Homo sapiens: one gene and its partners. The protein of the gene in region 1 purifies or fractionates together with the protein of each later gene. This does not show direct contact. Each region holds a gene or a part of one and is shown on either strand. Other genes may lie near its edges. The genes, in order: PROS1, ITLN2 and TMPRSS13.

Region 1 (3,652 bases):
TGTCTATCCCACTAACATGCAAGCTCTAGGAGGTATATATCTCTATCATTGCTTTGTTTTCCCCAGCACTCACTCAATAGATATTTGTTGAATTAATATGTTTCCAGAATAGTTGGATTACTAAAAATATTAGTTCATAATCTGAATGAAGTCTTCCTCATTTAATATGATGTAACATACAGCAAAGCCCAAATACCACACGGAGCCCTTGAAAGGGTAAATGTGAATAAGGAAAATCATTTTCCTTTGACAAGATGTTCTTCCACTTAGCCACATATAATGTCACTGTTTTTCATTATAATCCTGTAACTCCCATCCAGAAGAAAAAAAATATATAGACCGGGTACGGTGGCACATGCCTGTAATCCTAGCACTTTGGAATTGCCTGAGCTCAGGAGTTCGAGACCAGCCTGGGCAACATGGTGAAACATCTCTACTGAAAAAAAAATACAAAAAATTAGCCGAGCATGGTGGTGTATACCTGTAGTCCCAGCTACAACTCGGGAGGCTTGATTCAGGAGAATCGCTTGAACTCAGGAGGCAGAGGTTGCAGTGAGCTGAGATCACGCCACTGCACTCCAGCCTGGGAAAAAGAGTGAGACTCTGTCTCCAAAAAAAAAAGAATGTTTATATGTAATCATTGTGAAATAAGTAATTTTTAATTGATATATCATAATTGCACATATTTTGGGGTACATATGTCATTTGATAAATGCATACAATGTGTAATGCTCAAATCAGGGTAATTGGAATTTCTATCACCTAAACATTTATCTTGAAATAAGTAAATTTAACACAGAATATTAAACTCAAACTAAAATGAACACACGAATGTATAGAAGTTAAAATGTAACATTAAATATTAATTACAAAGTAGATCACTTACAAATTATCCATGAAATGATTAATTACTTATTAAAGTAATTTTTTTAGATACAATATAACTCTTATTTTCATTACCTTTTCAGGATTTTTTTCCTTTGGCCAAATCACCATGGATTTAGTTTTATCCTAATTTAATCCTCACCCCATTTATAACTTTAAAAAAATCTTTCATAGGCAGAACAGAACTAGGCATTGTATCAATTTGTGTTAGAAAAAGGGAAATCATTTTTGTAAAATTTGTCCTTAAAAATACAGTAAAAAAGGCTGGGCACAGTGGCTCATGCCTGTAACACCAGCACTGGGAGGCTGAGGCAGGAGTATCACTTGAGTTAAGGAATTTGAAAACTGACCTGGGCAACACGGGAAGACCCTGTCTCTGCAAAACATAAAAATTAGCAAGGCATGGTGGCATGTGGCTGTAGTCCTAGCTACTTGGGAGGCTGAGGCAGGAGGATTGCTTGAGCCCAGAAGGTCTAGGTTACAGTGAGCCATGATTGCACCACTGCACTCCAGCCTGGATGACAGAGAGAGACCCTGTCTCAAAAACAAACAAACAAATGTAGTAAATATAGACTACGAAAGATGGGAGGGTGGGAGGAGGGTAGGGGTTGAAAAATTACCAATTGGGTATCATGTTCACTATTTGGGTGATGTGTACACCAAAAGCCCAGATTTCACCACTACACAATATATCACAATATATGCATGTAAGAAATCTGCACTTGTACCTCCTAATTACATAAAAATTTAAAAATGTATTTTAATGTAGTAAGCACTTTTTTTTTTTTTTTTTTTGTGAGACATGCTCACACTCTGTCATCCAGGCTGGAGTGCAGTGATAAGATCCTGGCTCTCTGCTGTGTCAACATATTGGGCTCAAGCCATCCTCACACCTCAGCCTCCTGAGTAGCTGGGACTACAGGTGCATGCCATCAGGCTTGGCTAATTTTTGTATTTTTTGTGAAGATAGGGTTTCACCATGTTGCCAAGGCTGGTCTTGAACTCTTGGGCTCTAGCTCTTTGGGATCTGCCCGCCTCAGCCTCCTAAAGTGCTGGGATTATAAGTGTGAGCCACCTTACCTCGCCCTTTTTAGGTTACAAATAAACACAATTAAAATGTAATTTTTTTCTTAAAGCAGAGATATCACATTAGTGTTAACAATTTATAATGCAAAGTGTTAGTAGCTCAAATAATGAACTACTAAAAAAGAAAAAGACAAAGAATTCAATAAAATAATTAGAATTTATAAATAGCTAATAAACATATGGGAGGATATTCAAGTTCAGTAGAAATTAGAGAAATAATATTAATATTCAAACCTACAAAATTTAATTTTTGAACTATCAGATTGGAAAAAAACTAAAGCATACACTTTCTCATTCTGTTGGTAGAAATATTAATTGATAAAAGATTTTTGGAAAAGAATGTAATTGAACCTCTAATAATTATATATTTGCATAACCTTTGATAGAGATAACCTAATTCTAAAATTTTCTTCCATAGAATTAATCACATAAAGGTAGAAGGATGTATGATTTAGGATGTTCACAGAAGTATTACTTCTAAGGTTAAAAACCTAGGGTCAGTATGGCAAGATTCCCTGCTCCACTTAGGCTGTAGAAAAGTGGAAAGGGCACCACTCCCACCCTTACAACAACAAAAGCCAAATTATCTGCATAATCATGACTTTTCTTGAAACTATCAAAGAGCTGAGGTCGCAGAGCAACAAACTAACCAGAAACCTAAAGAAAGACAGGTGTTTCCAAGGAAAGCCAGAATGAGAACACTTTCTAATCCAGGGCAGACAGGAAATGCCATGCAATTTGGTAAAAATAATTTAGGTAAAGATTTAAACAAATTGCTGAACTCCATGTAGGGGCTGACGTAAGAGTTTAGAAGCCCTAGAAATTACAGACACAAAGACAATTCATGCTCATTCACAGGCTCTTCTCCACAGACCTTACCATGCACTCAAGAGAAAACAGAGTGCAGGGAAGGAGATCCGAAAAAGCCTCTCTCTTAATATGGTCCTGAAAGCAGCACCAGCTACAGGGAAGCCACAAAGCCCCATCTAGATCCTTCTCGGTCTCCTCTACACAACACAAGTTTTCAAGCCAGGAGAAAGGCAGCAAACCTTGTCATTAGGACACATATGAAGACTCATTGCAACTACAGATTAGGAAGAACAAACAAAAAAAGCTATCTATCATGCAGAAGGAGCAAGAAAACATATTGAGTCCTGATCACTAGACATCTCCCCTACTGATGAGAGTCAGGGAAGAGGAACAGTGAAAATTCCACACTCCTGAGACCCAGGGATACAACACCTGCCTAAGACTGAATTTGTACGACAACAACATAGAATGCTTCCCCAACCTCCGCATCTTCTCTGCCATGTTAGCAAATGTCAGGTAACAAGAGCACTCTGCTAGGGGTGGGCAAGACACTTGAGAGACACAAGTGGGAGAGACATTTTCTTGAGGCGTATTATGGAGGGAATACATAAAACTGAGCTGCTATGATGAAAAACTCTCTAGGCCAGGCACGGTGGCTCAAGCCTGTAATCCCAGCACTTAGAGAGGCTAAGGCAAGCAGATCACCTGAAGTCAGGAGTTTGAAACCAGCCTGGCCAACATGGCAAAACCTCGTCAAAAATACAAAAATTAGCAGGGCATGGTGGCGCACCCTTGTAATTCCAGCTACTCAGGAGGCTGAGGCATGAGAATCACTTGAACCTGCAAGGTGGAGGTTGCGGTGAGCCGAGAT
Region 2 (3,652 bases), on another chromosome or scaffold:
CATCTTTCCATGTTTGGGGAAGACCACAGGCTTTCTGCCAAGACTTAGGTCAGCTGTCCCTATGTGGCCTATGCGCAAATGTGCAAGGTCACCAGGATGCCACCGTGGAGCCAGTCTCCTGCAAGCTTGTGAACAGGAGGGGAACTCTGAGCTTAGGGAAGCTGAATCTTATGAAGTGGGCACAACCTTTGCTCTGAGCTGCACAGAGGCCCTATCCTGCTGTAGAATCAGATGTGGCGTGTGCTGATTTCTGGCCTCTCCTGGCCACAGGGTGGCACTGTCGAGAGGGAGATACCATCTCTGTCTCTTCTAAGACTATTTGCTCTACAAACTCTTTGAAAAGATAGTGTGAAGCCAAGACAGTCAGTGCCTCTGCTCATAGGTGAGCAGAACACAAGATGCATGGAGCATCGTCTTCCAGCAAGTATGTGTTGGAGTCTTCTGAGTGTGCTTTTGACTTCCTAGGGCTTTTCTATTCACGGAGCTGAGATGAACCCTGAGCTCTCAGACAGGGAGGCTCTGGGCTGGTTCTCTCTACAGATGGCCTGTATTTTCTCCGCACCAAGAATGGTGTTGTCTACCAGACCTTCTGTGACATGACTTCTGGGGGTGGCGGCTGGACCCTGGTGGCCAGCGTGCACGAGAATGACATGCGTGGGAAGTGCACGGTGGGTGATCGCTGGTCCAGTCAGCAGGGCAACAAAGCAGACTACCCAGAGGGGGATGGCAACTGGGCCAACTACAACACCTTTGGATCTGCAGAGGCGGCCACGAGCGATGACTACAAGGTTGGTGCCACTTCTCTCCTACTTGGGTGAGGGTGAGGTGTGGAGTGTGGCTGGCCACCAGCCTGCAGGAGGGAGGGCTGGAAGGTGGGGATATGGGGAAGGGCTGGAGAAGAAGAGAGAAATACAGGACTTGAATCACAACTTCCTCTCAACAAGGCTGTTAGGGCCCTGGGTGGTGGTGGGATCATCAGCTGGGAGTGGGGTGTCTGAGCGTGGCTGGCCATCTGCCTACTGATCCCAGAGCTCTCAGCCCAGCTGAGGCTGCACATGTGGACCTTCTGCCTCCTGGTACCTCCTGGCCCAGTCAGGCTCAGTGTCTGTTGCTTTCCAGAACCCTGGCTACTACGACATCCAGGCCAAGGACCTGGGCATCTGGCATGTGCCCAACAAGTCCCCCATGCAGCATTGGAGAAACAGCGCCCTGCTGAGGTACCGCACCAACACTGGCTTCCTCCAGAGACTGGGACATAATCTGTTTGGCATCTACCAGGTACACAGGGCTGCTGGCTGGGGGGCACTTTCTTTGGTGAACAGAGATCGAAGTGTCTAGGGTAGGGGGCAGATCTGTCCTGTGGTTCCACATCACTACTGAGTGGTTGGCTGTTTCTCCTTCCTTTGATTCACTGTGAACTCATGTCTGGCCTCTCAGAAACTCTAAGCCAGCAAGGAAGAGGCCTGTGGGACAGGAAAGCATGGGGAGAAAGAGACAGGGACAAGGGGTTTGGGGCTGTTGGGGAGACACAGCTATGGGGAAAAGCAGTCACTATTATGAGGATTGGTTTTGGGTAATGGCAGTTAATTTGAAACCCCTCCTCCCCCCACACTGTGGCAGCATCTCTACTGTCCTCACAAAACCTTTCTTCTGGGTCTCTGCAGAAATACCCAGTGAAATACAGATCAGGGAAATGTTGGAATGACAATGGCCCAGCCATACCTGTGGTCTATGACTTTGGTGATGCTAAGAAGACTGCATCTTATTACTCACCGTATGGTCAACGTGAGTGTTTGCTCCCTAAGTCCAGTCATAAATATTTTCTTGTACTCTTGGAGAATGGTGGCAAATAACAACAATTAATAATTGCTAGTATTTACTGAGCACTTAAAATGCACCAGACTCTTGTCTTGGAACTTAACATGATTTTGTGTCATTTAATTACCATGAGAAAACTATGAAGTTAGAATTGCTGTTATCCCCATTTCACAGCACGTAATCCCAGGTTTCTTCATCACCACCTTGTATACTCTTATAATTGTGGGGAAAAGAAAAAGAGATCAGACTGTTACTGTGTCTATGTAGAAAGAAGTAGACATAAGAGACTCCATTTTGGTCTGTGCTGAGAAAAATTCTTCTGCCTTGAGATGCTGTTAATCTGTAACCCTACCCCCAACCCTGTGCTCACAGAGACATGTGCTGTGTTGACTCACGGTTTAATGGATTTAGGGCTGTGCAGGATGTGCTTTGTTAAACAAGTGCTTGAAGGCAGCATGCTTGTTAAAGGTCATCACCACTCTCTAATCTCAAGTACCCAGGGACACAATACACTGCGGAAGGCCGCAGGGACCTCTGTCTAGGAAAGCCAGGTATTGTCCAAGGTTTCTCCCCATGTGATAGCCTGAGATATGGCCTCGTGGGAAGGGAAAGACCTGACTGTCCCCCAGCCCGACACCCACAAAGGGTCTGTGCTGAGGAGGATTAGTAAAAGAGGAAGGCCTCTTTGCAGTTGAGATAAGAGGAAGGCATCTGTCTTCTGCTTATCCCTGGGCAATGGAATGTTTTGGTGTAAAACCCGATTGTATGTTCTATTTACTGAGATAGGAGAAAACCACCTTAGGGCTGGAGGTGAGACATGCTGGCGGCAATACTGCTTTTTAATGCACCGAGATGTTTATGTATGTGCACGTCAAAAGCACAGCACCTTTTCTTAACCTTGTTTATGACACAGACATTTGTTCACATGTTTTCCTGCTGACCCTCTCCCCACTATTACCCTATTGTCCTGCCACGTCCCCCTCTCTGAGATGGTAGAGATAATGATCAATAAATACTGAGGGAACTCAGAGACTGGTGCTGGTGCGGGTCCTCCTTATGCTGAGCGCCAGTCCCCTGGGCCCACTTTTCTTTCTCTATACTTTGTCGCTGTGTCTCTTTCTTTTCTCAGTCTCTCGTTCCACCCAACGAGGAACACCCACAGGTGTGGAGGGGCAGGCCACCCCTTCAATAATAGTTAAGAAAAGGTGCATACAAAACATTAGCTGGGCATGATGGCGCATGCCTGTAATCCCAGCTCCTCGGGAGGCTGAGGCAGGAGAATCGCTTGAACCTGGGAGGCGGAGGTTGCGGTGAGCTGAGTTCACACCACTGCACTCCAGCCTGGGCAACAAGAGCGAAACCCTGTCAAAAAAAAAAAAAAAAAAGTGCACACTGAGGTTCACAGGAAAGAACCACTAGCAGAGTGGTGAGAGAGATTTACTTTTGTTATGAAGGATAACTTTAATTATCTTACAAAAGACAGTTTTCAGTATAATAAGAGCACAGAAGTTAAGTTGTGGATAAAAAAATCAAAGACATCACTGTTTGCCTTTGATATTTTGATGAAAGCAGGTGATGGTCAGGGAAACTAACCCATGGTAATTGGATGAGAAGTGTGTAAACAGCAATAGGCAGCCACATCTGATCATTGCTTATTCCTGCTGGGCCTTCTCAGATCTTTTTGGTAATCTTTTTGTAGAGTCTAGTTTCTCCTGTAAGCTGTAAGCAGACCTGGGTCCTTTTGTGAGTCCCAGCCTTTGTCCTCTTGCCCCCTATGAACAGAGGTTTCCTTGGGGACAAGTTTAGGACTGACGTGCACCAGCCACTGGCCATA
Region 3 (3,652 bases), on another chromosome or scaffold:
TTAAGAAAAGCCCTGACCTGCCAACTGAAGGGGCTGAGTGCCATTGTGAGCTCATCTGAGGAGAAAAAGAATGCTGGACAAAGGCCAGACTAAGGTCTTTCCATAACATGGACAAGCCCCAGCTGCAGAAGGCCCTGCCCTTCCCTCCTGGGGTGGCCTGGGCCTCGGCTCCTGCCAGGGATCCTGGCACTGTGGCACCTTCACCAGCCTGCCTGATCTCCTTCCTCTTTTGTGCACACTCTAAGTCTTCCCCAACTTCAGGGGGAATTCCCATAAGCCGGGACAATAAAATACTAATCACTCGTGTGTGTACTGGCACTTTAGAGTTGATAATAAACGTTCACATCTGTGGCCTCACAAGGGCCTCACCACACCCCTGGGAGGTTGGTATTTTGGAAGGCCATTTTACAGATAGGAAAGCCAAGGCTCAGAGCTCATCTTGCAGAATCACAGAGTCAGGGTTCTACCCCATGCCTATTTGTCTCTGAGTCACCTGCCCTTCTTGAGTCAGAAGAGCTTCCTGCACAGTCTTCGTGAACCACGTGTACAGAGTGCTCATTTTGCCTTTGTGAGATTGGTTAAGAATGGGGCCCCCTGGCCCTGCAGGGCCAGGAACACCTTGGGAACCTGGGGATAGGGCTGGGGGTTACCACAGGGATCTTGGTCTTGTGATACTTTCCAGTGTGACCCATAGTGGGGCCCTGTGACCTGCCAAGACCAGGAGGTGCCTGGTGGCCTGGGGCATCGGGGTCAGGTGAGTTTTCAGGTGCTCTGGGTTAGAGAGACCAGGCTGGAATTTGGCCTGCCTCTAAGGCAGCTGGGCGCCCCAGGCAAGTGACTTCACCTCTTTACATCTCAGTCTCCTATCTGTAAGCTAGAGCGAAGCACCTTGCTTCGTGGTACTGAGGTCACAGATCATGCCTGTAAAACGCCCAATACACAGTGAGGGTGTGGTGAGCCGTGTCTGTGATGGAGGGGTTTTGTTTGTTTGTTTGTTTGCTCGTTTGTTTTTTTGAGTCTTGCTCTGTCCCCCAGGCTGCAGTGCAGTGGCATGATCTTGGCTCACTGAAACCTCCGCCTCCCAGGTTCAAGCTATTCTCCTGCCTCAGCCTCCCATGTAGCTGGGACTACAGGTGTGCACCACCGTGCCTGGCTAATTTTTGTATTGGAATCTTGCCCTGTTGCCCAGGCTGGAGTGCAGTGCCGCGATCTTGGCTCACTGCGACCTCTGCTGGGTTTAAGGGATTCTCCTGCCTCAGCCTCCCGAGAAGCTGGGATTATATGCACCCGCCACCACACCCGGTTAATTTTTGTATTTTTAGTAGAGATGGAGTTTCACCATGTTGGCCAGGCTGGTCTCAAACTCCTGACCTCAAATGATCCACCCGCCTCAGCCTCCCAAAGTGCTGGGGTTACAGGCGTGAGCCACCAGACCACACCCAGCCGATAGTGGGGTTTTGTTTGTTTGTTTGTGGGAATGCTGGGCTTGCTATGGAAAAATCTGAATCTGATTGCCTCCATTCCCAACTGCGTTTCCTGGGCAAGCGACATAACCCTTCAGTGCCTGATTCCACATGTGTAAAATGGGCAGACCTTACCTCCTTCCCCCAGATAAATGGGTGATACACATGAAAGAGCCTGGTCTATAAATGTGTGTCAAACCATGACAAAGATAACAGCCCACGAGCACTTTACGGGACCCCATTCCAACCTCTTGACAGCTCTTTGCAGTTGGTATGGTTAGCCTCATTTTATAGATATTGAAACAGAGGTCCAGGCAGGTTAAGAACATGCCCAAATTCACACACCAGGTAAGTGACAGCTCAGATTCTAACCAGGCCTGCTTGGAGCAAGGAGGGCCTTGACCTACAGTGTCACAAACATCCACAGGACCTACCTTCGTCTCTTCAGGGCTCGTATGTGCAGTTTTGCACCATTATGTGATTTGATTCTCACAAGTCTCTCAGTTAGCAAGCTGGGCAGGAATTACTATCCCCAGTTTGTACACAAGGACCCGGGGCTCAGAGAGACGAAACAGCCCACCTCACCCCCTGAATGAGCTGGTGGTCTTTAGGAACTCTAGCACAGTCGTCTCATTCCCAGGCAGCTCAGGCTGTCTCTACCTGAACAGAACCCTCCCATCCAGCCCCAGCTGCCCCATCTTGAAGAGGCCCAGAGGAAAATGGGTGGGCAGGTGGGGGGAGGGAGCTGGGGAAAGCTGTAAAGCTGGAACAGGAGAAGGGAGTCAGACCAGACAGGGAACTGGTGGGGAGGGGGCATTGGTGGAAAGCCAAGAACTGCAGAAAGGGCGACACATCCGAAAGTGGGATGGAGTCTCTGCAGGCCCTGGGTCTGGGGGTATCTAGCTCTGGTCTGGGTAGAGCAAGTGCTCTGCTGTCAGAGCCTGGGAGGCAGGTGGAAAGTGGCTGGACCCCAAGACCAGGGCAAGAGGAGAGTTCTGGAGCCTCAAGACCTGAAGAAGAACTGCCCATGAAGAGAACTACAAGTCCCAACAGGGACATCAGGATGGAAGGGCAGCCCCCAGACCAGAGGAGAGCAGCATCCAGAGTGAGGTCCCCGCTCCACCCCCTGACTCTGACCCTCAACCCAAACCCTCCCAGACATCAAGAAGAGTTCTCATCTTCAGGGATCATCTGAGTAAGAGATTCCACACCAACCTTCTTTAGGCACTTCACGGCCTGCTGCCCCACGCTGCTGGAAGTTCTTCTGGATACCTAACCTGTTATAGCACTAACTCATTTCTTTTCCCCAATTCTTGGAGAACAACTGCTGAGACTCTAGCCTCCCACCGCTGGCCTGATCTCACCCTCAGAGTAGAGGCCTTCAGCAGCTGGGGAATAGGAAGGGGAGGAGACTACTTGTTTGTTTGTTGTTTGTTTGCTTTGAGACAGAGTCTCACTCTGTCGCCAGGCTGGAGTACAGTGGCGTGATCTCGGCTCACTGCAACCTCCACCTCCCGGGTTCAAGTGATTCTCCTTCCTCAGCCTCCTGAGTACCTGGGACTACAGGCACGCGCCACTGTGCCCAGCTAATTTTTGTATTTTTAATAGAGATGGGGTTTCACCATGTTGGCCAGGATGGTCTCGATCTCTTGATCTTGCGCCCGCCTCAGCCTCCCAAAGTGCTGGGATTACAGGCGTGAGCCACCGCGCCCAGCCGAGACTTCTTATCCAAGGTCCCAAGCTACAAGGGGCAGAACCAGGACCAGAACCCAAGCTTCCCAAATCCTGGCCTTTGGCAGTGAGCCGAAGACTCAGAAGTGGAAGTGAAATGACCAACTCCTTGATGTGTCCTGGTGTCTCCACAACCTGCCTGCAGACCAAAGGCTTCTCAGCCTGCTCAGGGGCAGGTGCACAGGGTGGAGCAGGGGAGTGTGGTCAACTCTGAGCCACATCCCTGGCCTAACCTTGCCAACCATTCTTTCCTGACCATGCCTCTCCTCCCCACCTACCCGTGGGGTAGTCTCTGAGGTTACCCCCTGCAGTAACACAATTGTAAGCCCTTACCATGACATGGAACAGGCCCACACCCCAGGCTGTCACTGCTACCACCTGGCTATGCCTCTGCAGCTCCCAAGGGTCCTCACCCAAGGCTTGTTCAGGGCCCTCCAGACGTGTTGGGGCAGGAAGGC

The links.
Region 2: the proteins of PROS1 (region 1) and ITLN2 purify together in Homo sapiens (co-immunoprecipitation; one large-scale study listed by IntAct). This does not show direct contact.
Region 3: the proteins of PROS1 (region 1) and TMPRSS13 purify together in Homo sapiens (co-immunoprecipitation; one large-scale study listed by IntAct). This does not show direct contact.

What each region holds. Positions count from the first base shown.
Region 1 is NC_000003.12:93,879,896-93,883,547, forward strand, and holds part of PROS1 (vitamin K-dependent protein S isoform 2 preproprotein), read right to left. Parts: intron 1-3,652. UniProt on the Homo sapiens protein: Anticoagulant plasma protein; it is a cofactor to activated protein C in the degradation of coagulation factors Va and VIIIa. It helps to prevent coagulation and stimulating fibrinolysis.
Region 2 is NC_000001.11:160,948,179-160,951,830, reverse strand, and holds part of ITLN2 (intelectin-2 precursor), read left to right. Parts: intron 1-540; coding exon 541-788; intron 789-1,119; coding exon 1,120-1,278; intron 1,279-1,664; coding exon 1,665-1,785; intron 1,786-1,908; exon of another isoform or gene 1,909-3,180; intron 3,181-3,652.
Region 3 is NC_000011.10:117,919,349-117,923,000, forward strand, and holds part of TMPRSS13 (transmembrane protease serine 13), read right to left. Parts: intron 1-3,652. UniProt on the Homo sapiens protein: Serine protease. Cleaves the proform of PRSS8/prostasin to form the active protein. Cleaves the proform of HGF to form the active protein which promotes MAPK signaling.